Regions from separate parts of the Homo sapiens genome. Here region 2 is linked to region 1. The links come from fine-mapping of genetic effects on gene expression. A gene starts in region 1. The other region holds a variant in brackets. All regions are shown on one strand. Distances are from middle to middle.

Region 1 (8,348 bases):
TGGGATCAGATATCAGCCATGATAACATATTCAGATTTTATCCTGTAGGCAAAAGGGATCCCATAGAGGCTGTAAAGCCAGAAAGCTATAGAGAAACTTTGTTTCTTAGAGAATCTCTAAATTCACCAATGGGCAGGAAAAAAATTAATTTGAGGAGACCAGCATTTTCTCATGTATGTGTTTGTGTGTGAAATAAAATTATAATCTTATATTCTTAGGGTCAGTTCTAGTTATGATGATGAAACATTTTAAGAAATTGTAACTTAGTCTGTAGAATGGAAACACAAGTCCCTAGAAAATCAAGCTAGTTATTATGTCCCATTTCAGCACGCCTTTACCTACCCAGGATATCAGAGGTTTCCCCTCTTTCTTATTGACACAGAAAGCTGCTTGGAGATGGTATATATTTCATCTTATATGTTGACAGTCTGACTTTCTTAGCATGTGCCATATGACAGGATCACCATGCCACAACTAGTAATTGAAAGCCATATGATGGTTCTCCCTATCCAATTAGAAAACAAACGATCCAATTAAGAAAAATTTTAAAAGCTGTTAAAAGGAAGCAATCACTTGCCAATAGTGCTGTCCTTACAGTTTAACACAGCTAGAAATTGACCTGTACTTCTCTTTTCCACATTTATTTTTGTGAATTATAAGTTAATCACCCTGTCAATTCCTAATTAAAAGGCCCTGCAAAGATTTTCATCCAAAAAGGACTGTTGCTAAGGGTTCTGGGTCAAATTGCTCTGTTGTCAAAAATGAGGAATAAAACCAAAACAACATCAACTCTCTCCCAGGAAACTTACATCTTAATACCAAAAAATGAGGACTTTCTGGAAATATAATAATCACATTTTATATTTTCAACCCTGTTTGATCTTATCTTTAGAACACAGATGTCTCCTTTTTTCTCTTTCTTTAAAACAAGGGTTGCAAATTCAGATGCCTAGTGGGGCCGGGCAGTGATAGAAACGAGTCAAGAGGAGCAGGCAGCAGGCGTATGAAGCAGCAGCTGTGGAAAAGTCAAGCTTAACGCCTGGCCAAAAGGGTCGGCTTCTACTCAGCTGGAGCCGATGTTGCTTATGTGGGAATGTGGGCACAATGTTGCCAGACCTTCAGCTCTTTCATGAAAAGCCAGAAATTCAGGATCTTGTGTGAAATCTGTTTTTTAAGGGCACCAAATAAAACACAGCTCTGTGGACTCAGCCCAAGGACCTCAGTGTCACAAAGTTTGCTCCCCAGAAAGTGGCCGCACACGGAGCAGATTGTGGGGATGAGGAGCCCGAGCAATGGGAAAGAGCAGAAAACGTGTACACTTTGCACTTAGGAGAACTTGCTGTGTCGACCCTGAGCAAATTACTCACTCAAGCTGGGTATCTGTTTTCTACTTGTCTTATTTTGCCTTTCAGGGCTATGTAATGGAATCATATGAAGGAAATTAAAACAGGTAATACACCATGAAATTCCAAGTTATTCCTAAAAGATGTGGATGATGGATTTCCAGTTTATTAACTAATAATAACTTTATGTTCTGAAAACAATGAGAAGGAAGGTTGGGACCAGACTCAAAAAAAAATCCTGAATGCCGTACTAAGATGTGTTATCCTAAGTTTCTAGTCAATTTTGAGACCCTGAAGGTCTTTTTTTAGCGGGGAAGTAACTTTATCAAAGCTGTAAAGATTCTCATGGCAACATTATGGAGTGGAATTTGAAGCAGGAAGAAATCATAGGCACCATTGCCAGACAGAAGATTATTGCTATAAGACTGTTAATGCAAGTCTAAATTCAGAGAGCAGCAGCAGATAGAGAAATTGATATTATGGTGCATCATACTATTAAACTTCTTCAGGGCCTTACCTGCCATCTCTTCATTATGACTGCTAAGTGCAAAGACCATCTCTTGTTATGCAGAACTCCCATACCAGGCCCGTTTCTGACTTACTCACTGGGTTGCGATGGAGGTTAATTCTAGATTCTGAAAGTGATTTGGCATTTGACAGTAACCATTTTGGCCAAGTCATGCCCAAGTCAATGAGTGTGCATGCTACCAGCATCATCCCCAGATGATCGTAGGGTCACTTCTATCATACCTGGCTCTGACCTCTCCCTCCTTTTTCTTGAGCCAATATTGCTCCTCTGGCCACCCAGAGGATCATCAAGAAATTAGTCCTGGGAAGATTAATTTTGATTAGCTAACATTTATAGAGCACTTGTTATATGCCATGAACTGCAATTGATATATATTGTTTTATTTAATCTTGATAACTCTACGAAGGAAGACACTATTATCCCTGATTTATACTTGAGGAAATTGAGAGCAAAAAAATACTGAAATTACCAAGTTCATGTAAGTAGTATATGCCAGATCAATATTTGAATCTAAGTAATATGGCGCAGAGGCACCTGCCTTAACCACTGTACCATATGATCACTTAATTAGGAAAAGATGCTGAAAAAAATGTAAGTGCATAAACATCCCCAGGTATTTCTACTTGTGTGGGTGCCTGGTCATTCTGTTAAAACACCTGATGAAAGTTTTACTTTCATATGAATTTTCATAAAAGAATAAGGGGGATATTACACAATTTTTTCAAAGAAATACAGAGTACCTCTGTTCTTATGAGTAGATGGTTAATCTCATGCATGTTATTTCTATAATTTTAATATTTGTGTAGCATTTTGTTTGCCTACATGTTTTGCAGACATTGTACTAATTTTTTACTGCATTATGGAAAGGACAGAACAGAAGCCTCTTTACCCATCTTTACAGGTACCTGTTGGGGTAGCTTCAACCCCATGTTATGTTGTATTATGCTGTGTTGGATCATATTTGTCAGTGTCCTGTTATCATCTATCATACCTTACTATCTAATATTGTATTGAACTTAAATCTGGCCCTTTAGGGGTCCTGTGAAAGATGAAAAATGTGGGTCCCAGCAGCCTTCCTCTTAAATATAATTGAAAAAGAGGCAGGCATCAAGACATGTCATGTCTCATGCTGCCAGAAAGTGATCTTGAATCATTTAAATGATGAGAATACAGTGAACATTTTGTACAAAAAGATGACAATTTTCTGTAGTAGTGTTGTCCAGATGAAAATGCCTAGCTGTCTTGGTAAGAGACCTGAAGAAGGATATACACACACACACACTCCTTATAGACTTATACAACTGATTTTTGCTATTTTATGCTTGAAGCAAAGTATGCAGGGTCCACAAAACTCTTAAGCCATCAGTAGGATTCTATACAACACTCCCCATTCAATAAGGAGAGCGCTAAGAAAGCAGTAAGTGAGAGTGGCAACACCATGCCCGTGCTTGGGGCTCTGTGCACACTTGATGGATCAGTGAACCAAGACAAAAACCCAGAACACTAGCAACATTAAATACAAATATGATCCACCGTCAGGTTTCCTATCAAGTTAAATGTAGCGTCTTATGTGCAGCCAAATCAGTGGTATTTGTGTTGACTCTTAGTCCCACCTAAACAAGGGCCATCAAACAGACATTCCTTCAGCTACCTCTCTTGAAGTGCAAGTCCCTAAGAAATGCTTACTAAATCACAGAAGCAGTGGAGAGATGGTAAGATTCACCAATCTAACCCATGCAAGTCTGACAGCAAATTTTGATGTCCCGGTTCAAGTCAGCTGGGAGGAGGAGGGGGTCTTAGGCATCTGTGACACCCAGCAGCATCTTCCACTAACCTTCTCTCCACTTATCAATGTGTGGTTTACATGTCAGACAAATGTTATAAGGCATAGGCATTCTGACCAACATATGAAAATCTCAAAAGCCAAGGAATCTGGAAAATACAAGGCAGTGGCCTGAAAATCCTCACTTTCCTCTGGCACTATTTTCGCTAACAAGTTTACTTGACACACATGCACACACACACACACATGCACACACACACTGGAATTTTAAGAGCAGGAATGTAACCATTGTGCTAACCATTCTCACATCACTCGCAAAATGTGTTCTAAGTCCATATTGTGCAGCATACTTGAAGACATGTGGATTTTTCCACATCATTTGGTGACATTTTACACAGTTTAATTTCTGCTCTTTCTTGCTAGACCCTACCTTTTTTTTCTCTCACAAACATTCCACCAATGGGATTTTCTTGAGCATTTTATCCTGCGCTCAGATTCCTCCCTTTTCTTCAGCATCTACTTGTATCGCTGCTGCACAACTTTGCCATGATGTGTCTGTCAAATTTCAGCCTCCCAGATTGAAAAGAAGGGGACACAGGTGTTCAACTGCCAAGGAGAGAAACCAGGTTAATGGAGTAGGGGCCGGCCTATGGGGCCGGCCTAAAGGGAAACCTCACAACCACAGGCAGAGGCCAACATGGAAGACTCCAGAGAAACGTGGTCCAGCTCGGGATGTTCCATTCCTCCATTCTCCTCACCAGACCAGGTGAAAGGCAGCTTTTAAAGTTGGAAGGAGTGAGGAATACAATTGAAACCAAAATTGGTTTGAGCTCACTATTTTTCTAGCTATCAGTTCTGAGGTCACAGTCACTAAAACTGGAAACTTAAAAATGACTTCAAAAAGGCAAACGCTAACTAGATTTCACACTGGATTTCATTTTACTTGGCATTACAGAAAGAATGCAGGTATTAAATACACTGTTTCCTGTATACAATAAGGTTAATTAGTAGTGAGGGATGGAAAATCAGTGTAGACATAACTCTTTTCGACAGGTATCAAAAATAATCCCCTGATCCCTACAGACCCCAGCTGCATTGAAAGAGGAGTAATATAAAAGATTCTTTAAGCACAAAATTTTCAAACATTCTCCAGGTGTCCCCAGCACCAGTTAAATAGGCCCTGAACCCCCTGTGCATGGGCTGGCTCCCGCTCCATTCCCTGGCTCTAACTTAAAGGCGCAGCTACTCACATTGAATTTTCAGGTGCTGCGTAAAAGCTCTCCATACAAAGCGGCTGGGATTGCAAACGGAGACAGACAGGAGAACAAAAAGAAGAATATATTGCGCCCTGCCTGGGTCTTCCCTAAGCTCCTTATCAATAAGGTTAATAAGGGTCTATGCAATTTACTGATCACTATGATGCAACAACCCTCCTTGTGCTCCAAATCTCCACGTAGGCGCTGGCTTTTAATGCTTTTCTCAGCCAATCACATAAAAGCGCTTTTGCCCGCACCCCAGAGAATAAACTCCGGTTCACGATCCTGGCCTCTGTAAAATCTCTGGTCCGTTATTACACTTCTACCTGCCCTAGTTAAGCAGATTAACAGTTATTTCCTAGAATTTGATCTATGAGGTTCTTTGTAATTGAAGCTGGAGTACTCAGATATTACTAAAAAATGTATTTCTGAAAAACGCATTCCTTTTTTCTCTGGTTTAATTTTGTTATCCTCAATCATATGCATGATATTAAAAAAATCCAAATTTCTATCTCCTCTATAAAATACATGTCATATCAAAAAGGTGACAAGAGGGGGGAAAAGTAATTAGTGAGTTCACGGAGTTCAGTAGAAAAGTTAAAATGGAGTAACACATTACTTTTTATGTTAAGATTTCACAAGACAAGTCTTGCCTGTGTTTTAATTGCATGTGACCCTGGCAGTCCTACTCTGAAATGAAGTGCCGTAAAATTAAAGATGACAGACGCTCAAAACAAGTCTTGTGATCTTGATTAAACTACAAAGACCACACTCTCTCTCTGCTGCAACTCAGATATCATGGGCTGTTTTATTTGGGGAATTGCTTCATTAATGCCTTCTTTGACTAGACATGTTTATTATATTAAAAAAACTGAATATGGTGATATCTCGCATAGCTAAATAATTCCCCCTAAAATGCAAGTTACAAATGAAGAGTGTTTAAATATCCTGCAGACCTAATGCTTTTATAAATGCTCACAATTATATATCTATATATCATATGTATGTGTGTGTATGCATGTGTGTGTGTGTATATATATATATACCACAATCATGAATAATTGAATATGGGCATGTATGGATATATATGACCATATTCATCCTTGAAACATGAATTACCTATGCTAACCTAGGAATCTCTACTATAGTCTGAGAAGCAGAGCAATTATTCTACTATATTTTCTTAGCCATGTAAAATTTCCCAGGCCAACAGAATGTAAAGAATTTTACATTATCCTATACAGACAACTTCTGAGAAAACACTGGAATTTTAAAGTTCCCAGGTATAGTCTGAGAAGAGAACTGGATTTGATTCACACCTGATTTTTCAAAATTATTATCAAGACATTCCATCTAAGTTATATAAAACATAGAATAGATGCTTTTAAATCCTGCTTCTTCCCCTGGGTGGGAGTGGGAAAAAAAGCAGAGTTGAGAGCAAGTCCTTATTTCATTCTGCTGTTAGTGTCTCTCCCATATGTCTCCACTCACCAGGTCTTGTTCAAATCTCAAGCCCTCTGGGACAAGTCCTTGTCCTCAACAAGGACCTTAACAAGTAGGTGAGATTATTCATGTCTAGGGTCTCCTACATTCTAAAGTTCTACGATCCTGTTATTTTGTCCCATTTCAAGAACACTATTTTTAATTCATGTTCCAATTCGTCAATTTTATTTCATTTTAAGAAACAAGAAGACACTATATTTGTAATATACACTGGCTATGTGGGTGTTAATATCTAACAGGGATATATGGATTCACCTGAGAATCAGAGCTGGGAAATCTGGTTTCCAGAATTCACTTTTTCCTGGAGTATTCATCATTCCAGATAAGTCTCCATACACATGTCTCAATTTCTTCATGTTCAAAACACATATGGCAGTTTTTGCCCTACCTAACAAAAAGGGTTGTTGTGAAAATAAAATACAATACTATATATTAAAAACTCTTTGAAAAAAAGTATGACTGATGCTTCCCAATCAGTATTATTTTTACAATTTTTCTACCAATGGCCTTCAGTAAACACAAAAGCTTTTGCATTTACAAGCCAACTGACCCTTTAACTTACACTGTTCTTTTAAAAATCTTCATGCTTGCCTTTAAAATGAAATGCTTGTTCCTGTATGTTTTTTCAACACTGTCAAAAATCCTCAGGTGAAAGATATATCATGTCTTTCATATGGGAGATTTTTATTTGACAGAATAACTCAAGATTCTGGACATAAGAAAGTGTTTATTAGAACCTAATTATGTATAGCATTGCGAGATTATGTTCGGCTAAGAGAACTGCAGTTACATCTACTTTCAGCCTCTCAGTCTCTCTCTACTTCCGAGTCTACTCTCTTCCGTGGCTCTTTTATCTTTTTCTATCTTGGTGCCTCCTTCTCTGTTTCTCTGTGTCTCTTTATTCCCACTCCATACCCTGACATTCAGTACAGGAATTTTAACATAGGTTTCGTGGGTCCCTGGACCCCTGGACTTCAACAGATGCAGGAAATCTCAAAACCTTCATGCTAGATTTTTGGCACATTTTTCTGGAGTCCAAGTCTGGAGTTTTCATCATATTCTCAAAGAGGTCTGTAACTAGGAATTACTGTTCTAGATCCATTTCCCAGCCTATCAATACTGCTATCTTTTGTCTAAATTGAACTGTAGATGGGTCACTGTCAATCAAATCCCAAGTTCTAACAGGCCATGAGGAGTCTCCACGGCTTTCTGTCCAACTGCCTGACAGTACAACCAAGTCCAAGGAGCTAACTATAGATCCAACAAAATCAATTAGTACATATCAAAAAAAAAATATTCAATCCTTAGAGCAATTCCCATTTATAATTGATAAAAATAATAAATAGGGTGCACCCATGAAATTAAGATACTTTGCCTGTTATTCAACAGAGGATATTTAGAGTTTTAAGAATAAATCCAACAGTAACACAAGTGGTCCATTTTCACAATGCCCAAGTGAAAACTGTGCCAGACACATGTCCTGTGCCTGCGTGGTACTTCTACACCATTAGCTGCCACAAATCAAAGAGAATGTCATTGCTTTTAATAGGATTACATAGAACCCAGTAACAAGCAGGAAGACTAGCATTAGACTGAGTAACTGGCCAGTAATTTGGATGTTTAACCAACTGATTGGCTGCCAAATTGACAGGTCATCCACACTGAACTAGCCACTATTCCATGAATTTTCATGACTAAGATCACAATGGTTCATTTGCATGTGTGAAATTCCGCTGTGAAGCTGGCTTTTGAACTGGCTAGCTCAGCCAAAGACGTGTTTCACAGCACCATGCATTAGTGCCCCAGAAATACCATCGCATGAGGGGAGCATAGATCTTCCCAGCCCCTTGTATGTAAACACAATCTATAACTAGGAGGGCCAATCAACACAGATGGTAACAACCAGAAGGTAAAGAATACAGAGGAAAATTGGA
Region 2 (8,348 bases), 130 kb after region 1:
TATATGTTTTAAAACCTGGTTTGCTGGGGTAAAACAGAAGAAGAGAAAAGCCAGATCACATTCTAAGGTTTTGTGCCTGAGAAGATAAATTCCACTGATAATAAAATAACATTGAGGTACTGTTTAAAGAATGGGGGCTTCTTTTTAGTGTTTGAATTGGGATAGAGCTTAGAATAAAAGGTCAGGTGCTTTCCTATTTCTTTTCAAAAAAGTCAGAAATCTTTAAGTGTTTACTTGAAAGAATCAAAAAGCAATATGATCCAATGGAAAAGAGCATGAGTTTTGCCCTCAGACATACTTGATTTCAAATTCATTTAAATGTATTTATTCAACATATATTTATTGAGTCACTACCATGCTCTAAGTAGTACACTAGGCCCTGGAGATACAATGATAAAAAAAATAGATGCAGTTCCCTGTTTTCATGCAACTTACAGTCTATTGTAGAGATTTAATTTAAAAAGTAATCGCCCACAAACACATAATGACATGTGCTATGAAGGAAAAAAAAGTGCTAGGGGCTTGGAGAGCAAAAATAAGGGGTCCTGAGCCAGCCTGGATGAGAACAGAAAATGAGTTCTTGAAGAGAGTGTTCAGGCCCCTATTTAAGAGATGAGGAAGCATGAACTAGGGGCAGCTGTCCACACTGAGGGCATAATAACATGTACAGAAGCTCTGCGGCAAGGGCAAGGCAACAAACAAGCAAAGAGCAACTTTGAGGTATCCATAGTCACAAAGAAAGTCCATCACTCACTTTCTAAGGAAATCAGTTGCAAGTTACTTGATCCCCTTACATTTCAGGCTCTGACAAAGCAGGATATTATAATAATTAAATGAGTTCAGGTACACAAAAGGGCCTGATATCTAGTAGATGCTGAATAAAACTAAGATCCCCATCCCTGTCACTAGCTGAATTTCTACTAAGCCATCCTCCTTGTTTTTCTGTCGCTGGAAGCACCAGCTTTAGATATAATGGAACTTTTCTTATGATTGACTGTCTGATACTCCATGTGCCAACTCAAAGCAATCTCATGTTTATTTATTTAAGGTATTCTTAGTCTTGTCACTCATTTCTCAGATCAACTAGTTAGTTTTCATTCTTATCGCTTCTCATTATATTGAACACAATGCGTTTTCTTATCAAAGGTCACTATCTTCATGAACCTACTACCCTGGTCTATTAGTCAGGATTCTCCAGGGAAACAGAACCAACAGGATATATGGGTGTGTATATATGTGTGTATATATGCGTGTTTGTGGGTGTGGGTCCGTGTGTGGAGAAAGAGAGAGAGAGACAGAGACAGATTTAAGGAATTGGCTCATGCAATTGTGGGGGCTAGCAAGTCTGAAATCTTCAGGGCAAGCCAAAGGCTGGAGACCCAAGAAAGAGTTGGTATTATATCTTGAGCCTGAAGACAGTCTGGAGGCTGAATTCCCTCTTTCCCAGGAGACCTCAGTCTTTTCTCTTCAGGCCTTCGACTGATTGGAGGAGAACTCCATACTCCCATTATGGAGGGTAATCGGCTTTACTCAAAGTCTACTAACTTAGATGTTAATCACGTTTAAAAAACAGCTTCACAGAAACATCTAGACTGATGTTTAACCAAAAACTAGCTATCATGGCCTAGCCAAGTTGACATAGAAAAGTAACCGTCACACCCGGCCATGCCAATTCTACATGACCTCAGCTTTACTCAAAGACTGATGCCTCCTGAGGGCCTGGGTCTCTGACGTGTCCTGGAGACAGAGTCACTTGACAGAGAGACAGAGACATGAGCACAGTGTATGTGATCCCCAAGCCTGTTTCCAAGGCATATGAATGTGAGGCATCAGGGTAGGCAATGGCAAGGAGCAGCGTTCCTACAAGAGCAGGGACGGAGAACCTCACGAGGATAGTGACAATCAAGAAAGGACAACTGCAAACCCTGGCTGTGAGGAGACCGGGGGAGAAAGGGGTGATCCCTTTCCTCACTCCCCTAAGGGTCACGGCCAACACTCCTATGATAAAGACAGGTTCACGAGAGAAAAGCATAGCAAATTTATTTTATCAAAGTTTTACATGATGCAGGAGCCTTCAGAATGAAGACCCAAGACCCAGGGAAAAGTGTCAATTTTTAATCTTAGATTCCATGAAGAGTGGACAGCCATGTTGAAATGCAATTGGATAAAAAATGAATAACCTAACAGTAACAGACAGAGGGGGAACCCAGCAAGGCCTGTGTGTTCAGATTCTTGGCTCCTTTGTGTAGCGTTCTTTCCTCCTGGGTATCAGGCAGGAGCCCTCTGGAATGAGGTCTTACGACTATTGGACATATTAGGTCAGAAAATCTCTTCTGACCAGATCCTAGACAGAAAGGTGGAGAAGATTCAAGTCATATTTCTACATGTTGTGGTTTGCTTAGAGGAAAGAGGTTCTCCTTTCTATGACTCACCTTAAGGAAGGAGGAATTCTAGTTTCTGTGACTCATTTTAGAAGAGAAAGAGGAGCGGGAGACAGAAAGGCAAGAGAAAGTCAGAGAGAGACTTTGCTTCTGAGGCTGTTTCTGAGGCATTCCAATTTCCATAGTTCAAGGTACTTATCACACCAAAGTGCCATATTTTGGGGGTCTCAATTTCTTGGCCCCCAACAGGACAAAAAGTGAACTGAGTTCCTAGAGATACACTCTTAGCCGAATGATATCCCAGTTCTCAACTAAGTCCTAAATATGCAGCTGTGGTTATGCCTGAAGAATGTGCCAAGACTTCAAGATTTATGACCATAAGGTTCCTGTTTTTTCATATGATTATATGTCCTTATATGAAGTCTCTGAGCCAGATTTTCTGAGTGCAGACCTCGGCTTGCCTCCCTACTAATTTTGGACAATTAATTTGTCAATGTGAGCCCTAGTTTTCATATCTATAAAATGGAAAAAATAGTATTACCTACTTTAAGTTTGTAGTGAAAATCAAGTAAGATAATCAATACATCTAAAGCATTGTGCATGGCCAGTAGAAATTGTTTAATGAATGCTAGCAGTTATCATAAATTCTAGCCATCTCTTCCATAACTTCCATCTGGAAAGTTAACCCCTGGCCACAACAAATGCCTCTTATGTCTGCATATGTACATGATACTTTCCAAAGTTATTTATATGTTAGTATATTTCTATTATATTTCATTTGTATTTGTCCTGTACCTTCCATAGCTCCCATTAAAAGGTAAGAACTGATGGAAAGGGGGAGATATTGGTCAAAGGGTACAAACTTGCAGTTCTAAGATGCATAGGTTCTGGATACCTAATGTACAGCATGGTGACTGTAGTTTAAATAATAATGTATTGTGTGCTTGAAATTTGCTAAGAGAATAAACCTCTAGTGTCTCACCATACACACATAAAGGTAACTATGTGAAGTGATGGATTTGTTCATTAGCTTGATTGTGGTAATCATTTCATAATGTGTACATACATCAAAACATTATATTGTATACTTTAAATATATATTATTATGTGCCGATTATACCTCAATAAAGCTGGTAGAAAATTAAAAACATTTAAAAACCCATCTTCAAAAAAGTAAAAATAAGCAAGTAAATAAATGATAAGAAATTATAATGTCTTTCACACTCCCCATAATGTCTCACAATTCCTAGTGACTATTCAGGTTAACAAGCATTTATTGAGAATGTATCAGGTTTAGGGTCCCATACCAGGTGCCACTCACTACAGTGGACTAATGTGTGTATCAATAAGGGATATTTTCCTAAAGTAATTATGCCAAATCTCAGCACCAAAGTGACGGTGCAATAATATAAATCTGGAGGTCATACAACAGGCTGATTATTTGGGGAGGGATATAGACTGCAAAGGCAAGTTCAATATTCAGCAAACAACACTCATTTTTCAACATTTATGAAATGCCTGCTCTAGGCATGCAGGATACTCTGCTAGGTCCAGACTCCTTAGCTGCAAAGGTGTCATTAGACTTGCTATAAAGATGTATTCTCTGTTTATTCATTTTTGTTTGGGGAGGTGATCTCATGATTATAAATTTTTATTAGTTACTAATAGCATTCTTGACACTAAACAAACACAGTGAGTTGCTAATCACAGAAAGGGTCATTTATTTTCTATTTTGGGTCACTTATTTTCTCTGTTGAGGGAAAGGAACATGACAGCTCTCTGTTAATAATGCCAAATTCAAAAATCCTTTTTCTTCTTAAAATCTGAGTATTACGTCCCTTCTGACCACATCTCCCCTTTTAAAGTTATATTGACATCTCACCTCATATTTTGCAACACCTTGCTTAGCAACCAAAACATGCCACTTGCAGAAATGAAA[C/T]CAAAAAGCTAAAGGAAAACTGAACAACCACAACCAGCTTCTATGGGCAGAGGGGTAGATTCTGCTTGCAGAGTTGCAACATGCATTCTCCCTGGGCCCTCCTTCCCTACAGAACCTAGAAGCAGAACAATATATCTTTCCATGAATATATTATCAGGACTCACTTGACGATCTTGCTGTTGACAATATTGGTTGTACTTCACTTCACTCTCCTCCTGTGGTCCAAAACCAGATTCAATACCCCTGGGCCCCTACCGAGGCTGTACAGCAGCTGAAGGGCCAACTGCCAATGGGTCTGGCACAGAGTCTTTCCAGCCTCGGCACCTGACTTACCGGCTGCCTCCCTTTCAGTCTCATTGGTTGATGAGGCAGCTGTGATTCTGACAATGAGCTTGGTGTTGGGTCAAGTTTTCTGTTTGGCTGACATACTCCCTTAGATGCCATTTTCCTTGACTCACCCTTGATTACAGGGAATGTTCTCTATTACCTTTTAAAATAATATGATATCCATAAGCAAAGCTTTGGATTAGCATTTTTGATAGCATTACCCATCACTGATTTTTTTTTCAATGCTGAAATGCATAAAGTAGGGCTAGAGCCAGCCTAAACCTAGTGCTTAGCCCAGTAGTGTATTAATTATCTTTTGTAACTTCAGAATAAAATGCAGAATTTCCCTCCCTAGGAACCTGGAATGCAATGTTTGCCCATGTAAGCAGTTTATAAGTGCAAATGTGAGTAAGTGTTTTTATATATTAGAAAGGTTGAGAGAATCCTCTTTCCACAAAAAATAAAAAGCTTTAAAAGAATAAATATTCATGTTCTAATACAGGGAATGTGAAATAAAAATAAGTTTAACTCTATTGATAAAAAGTACTTTTATTCAATAGTTAAAAGACAAATCACTTGCAAAATTTGCTTATATAGGAAAAAACTCTCAGTGTTGTAGCTTTCTTTATCATAGAACACCAGCCTCCCTCAAACACCAACTGTGATAATTAATGTCCATATTATGAACATTCTATGTGATACAATTTGTTTCTGCTTTGTTAAAAAAAAAAAAGGCCAAACTGACTGCCAGCACTTGAGATTCTGAAAATAATACTACATATGTTGATAAAATAATTCACTGCTGTTATTAATTTTCCAATTATATTTTGATATTTTAAAAAACTATTGTTATCATATACTTTTATAACATATCTAAATATTACAGATACATAAAACAGAATTGGAGACTCCCACCCACAGAAACTCTCATATAAACAACCTGGTGAATAATTCTTCAGATTTCCTCTCCAAGTGTTCTAATATGTATATAACTTTTACCAAAATGACACCATACTATACCTTCTGTTTGTGACTTCATTTTTTTTATGTCTAATAATTCTTGGACATCTTTTCCATTTGAAGCCGTCAAAACTGCCTCATTCTTGGAATCTCTATGGGCATCATAGTAGAAGGGATAAGATCGTGGGCTTTGGGACCAAATGGCTTAGCTGCATTTGAATCCTAGCCCCAGCATTAGTAATTCTGTGACTTTGACAAGTTACTTAATTTATCTGTGCTTTGCTTTCTAAACCCATAAATGTCAAATTAATAACATCTACTCAAAGTGGTTGCCGTGTCCATTAACTAGTTGCTTCTTGACATTTCGTAGGCATGAGACCACAATAGTACTGTTACCAAGGATATCTGATATCTTATTAACAATCTCACATTGATGGACATTTAGATTGACCATGATTTTTTATTCTCACACATAATGCTCTAATGAACATTCTTCTAAGTACAGCTATACCAATTTTGTGAGTATCCCTAGAGGCTAAATTTTTGAAAGTGTCATGTTTTTAATCAAAGGTGATCTATATTTTTAAAATGATAAATATTGCAAGACTATCTCCAAAATTGTAACTATTTATACTATGAATAAGAGTGATGAGGGTAAATTTTGGATTATGAGAAATACTTTGTTAAACCTTTTGCCCACACATTAAAAATGCATAGTTTTTGTTTGTTTCTTTGTTTGTTTTTACAAAGGAGCAGAGTATTACTGGAACACAACATATCTTAAGTAACATTTGTATTATGTTATCCATAAAAATCCAAATTTTTTTCATAATTTCCCCCATTCTCACAGTTCTGCAAGTCTTTGAGCCCTATTTCTCCAGAGAAAGAATTCATATCACCTTATCTTCATATAATCAGTTATTATTAAATGCAGAAAATAACATTCCACTAGGCAGCTACTCATAAAGATCTACAAATGAGATGTGTAACAAATGTTTATGGAAATTAGTAAATCAAGATATGAAACAATTATGTCATGTTCTACAGGTATGGTAACGTTAGTCCTCAAACCCAGACTGAAAACATTCTCTGACAACTCTACCACATGTTCAGAATTGAGATTGTTCAAGACTGGTTTTCTGTAGTTACACGAGAGCCCAAAGGGGTGAAACCACCCTGAGATGGATGAACCTCTGAGGTCTAGTAATATGTGGCGCATGTACAGTGTGAGAGAATATGTCCTCGAATCACAGTGGAACTAAATGGCAAACATTTTACAACTTCTGGAAACACATTTCTTTCTGGTTCTTTGATGTAAAGCTAACTTGAGGCTTTGTCCCAGATAGTAACATCCGATACAAAGAAGTAACATAGGAATAAGTTGATTTCTATTTATCAACATAGAATTTAAATAATTTTTTAATAATGAAGAGGCTTTACATCAGGTTAATAGAAAGGCAAAGATAAATGTTTACACAGGAGAAGTGGTGCATAGCTACATCTGTTCTCCCCACACACAGCAGCAAATATTGTGTTCTTTATGAAGTTTTATTTGCTTTTCATGCTTACTGTTGTTTACATGTTCTAAAATCTCTGCACGATGGAGTTTTCAAATGAAATAAAGATATCTAAATACTATAATTGGGAATTTTCTTAGAATTATTTTACCCTTTCTAAAAATAGGTTAATATTTGGCATTAACGTTTTTCAACTTAAAATACAAAATTGTTCTAAAACTGGGAGTTGAGGGTTAAATAGAAAATTAATGCGTATTTGCATTTTTAAAAAGATTTCCAGAAACAGTATTTGTTTTATCTAGTTTTATATTTAACACCTTTTGAGCATGAATCAATTCTCTACTTCTCTCTTTACTTGATCTTTTAAACTAAGATTTTTCTGTAATAACATAAGCCTAATTCTTTGGAAATAATATTCAGTTAGCATAATTGACATTATAGAGTTTTAAAGTACATTATAGAATATTCTGTCACTAGACACTAAATTGAAATTTTAAAGAAAATGATGGAAATTGCTGTAAGGGAAAAAAAGTAGCCTTTTAAATCTAATTTGTTATGCACTGCAGTAGGGTAATGGATGCAATGAAAGTTCTTTTATAGAGTTCCCATGTCCAAAAGGTATTTAGGTAGCAAAGGATGTTAAGCAGACCCCTGCTATCCCCCTTTAACTGAAGATAGCAGGAAACAAGGTATATAGGTCTGTGTCCTCCTGATTTTTATTTCCTCAGGAGTACAACTTCTGCAAAGGACACCTTAGGCTGCTTAGCGATCACAAAGGGTACACTAGAACCCCTCGCTGTCTGCTTGAATAGCACGATCTGAAGGGTGGCTGAAGCCATACAGGGAGTTAAATCCTTCAGGTGGGTCTTTTCAAATTCCAATAGTGAGGAGTTACTGGAGAATTGGTAAGGATTTCACTAGGCCCCAGCAGGTTTGAGATCAAAAGCTTCAGTTAAATAAAAGCCTATTGGGAAATCTTAAAACCTCTTTGTAATGTAACTTTAAAAAGTTAATACAAAGAAACCTTAGACTGAAGCCAGTAACAGCATGAACAAAGAGTATATCAAAACTGATTCCATTAAGAGAAAGCGGACATACAAATTCACTTACTTTAAAGAGCAATCCAGTTATATTACTGTGCGAGAGAATAGAACTTACACCATACCATCCAGCCCATTTAGATGTGCTCATTTCTTGCTACATATGCCAGACTGTATTCTTTGT

Direction of the effects. Alleles are on the strand shown, and positions count from the first base shown. SD is a standard deviation of normalised expression in the study named.
In carriers of allele T in region 2, the expression in spinal cord of the gene that starts at base 5,001 in region 1 tends to be lower than with C alone (large effect, 0.77 SD a copy in GTEx).

What was found.
Region 2: its variant is fine-mapped to the expression of ARHGAP15-AS1 in spinal cord (GTEx, PIP 0.91).

What each region holds. Positions count from the first base shown.
Region 1 is chr2:143,771,098-143,779,445 of GRCh38, forward strand. It overlaps ARHGAP15-AS1 (ARHGAP15 antisense RNA 1), which reads right to left and starts at 5,001. Exons shown (of 8, transcript XR_007087251.1): 1 at 4,906-5,001; 2 at 4,086-4,261.
Region 2 is chr2:143,899,034-143,907,381 of GRCh38, forward strand. No RefSeq gene overlaps it. Among named protein-coding and RNA genes, the nearest start is that of QTMAN-AS1, 34 kb to the right of the region's middle. RefSeq lists an enhancer at 7,625-8,183. The variant C/T (reference allele first, on the strand shown) is at 4,321.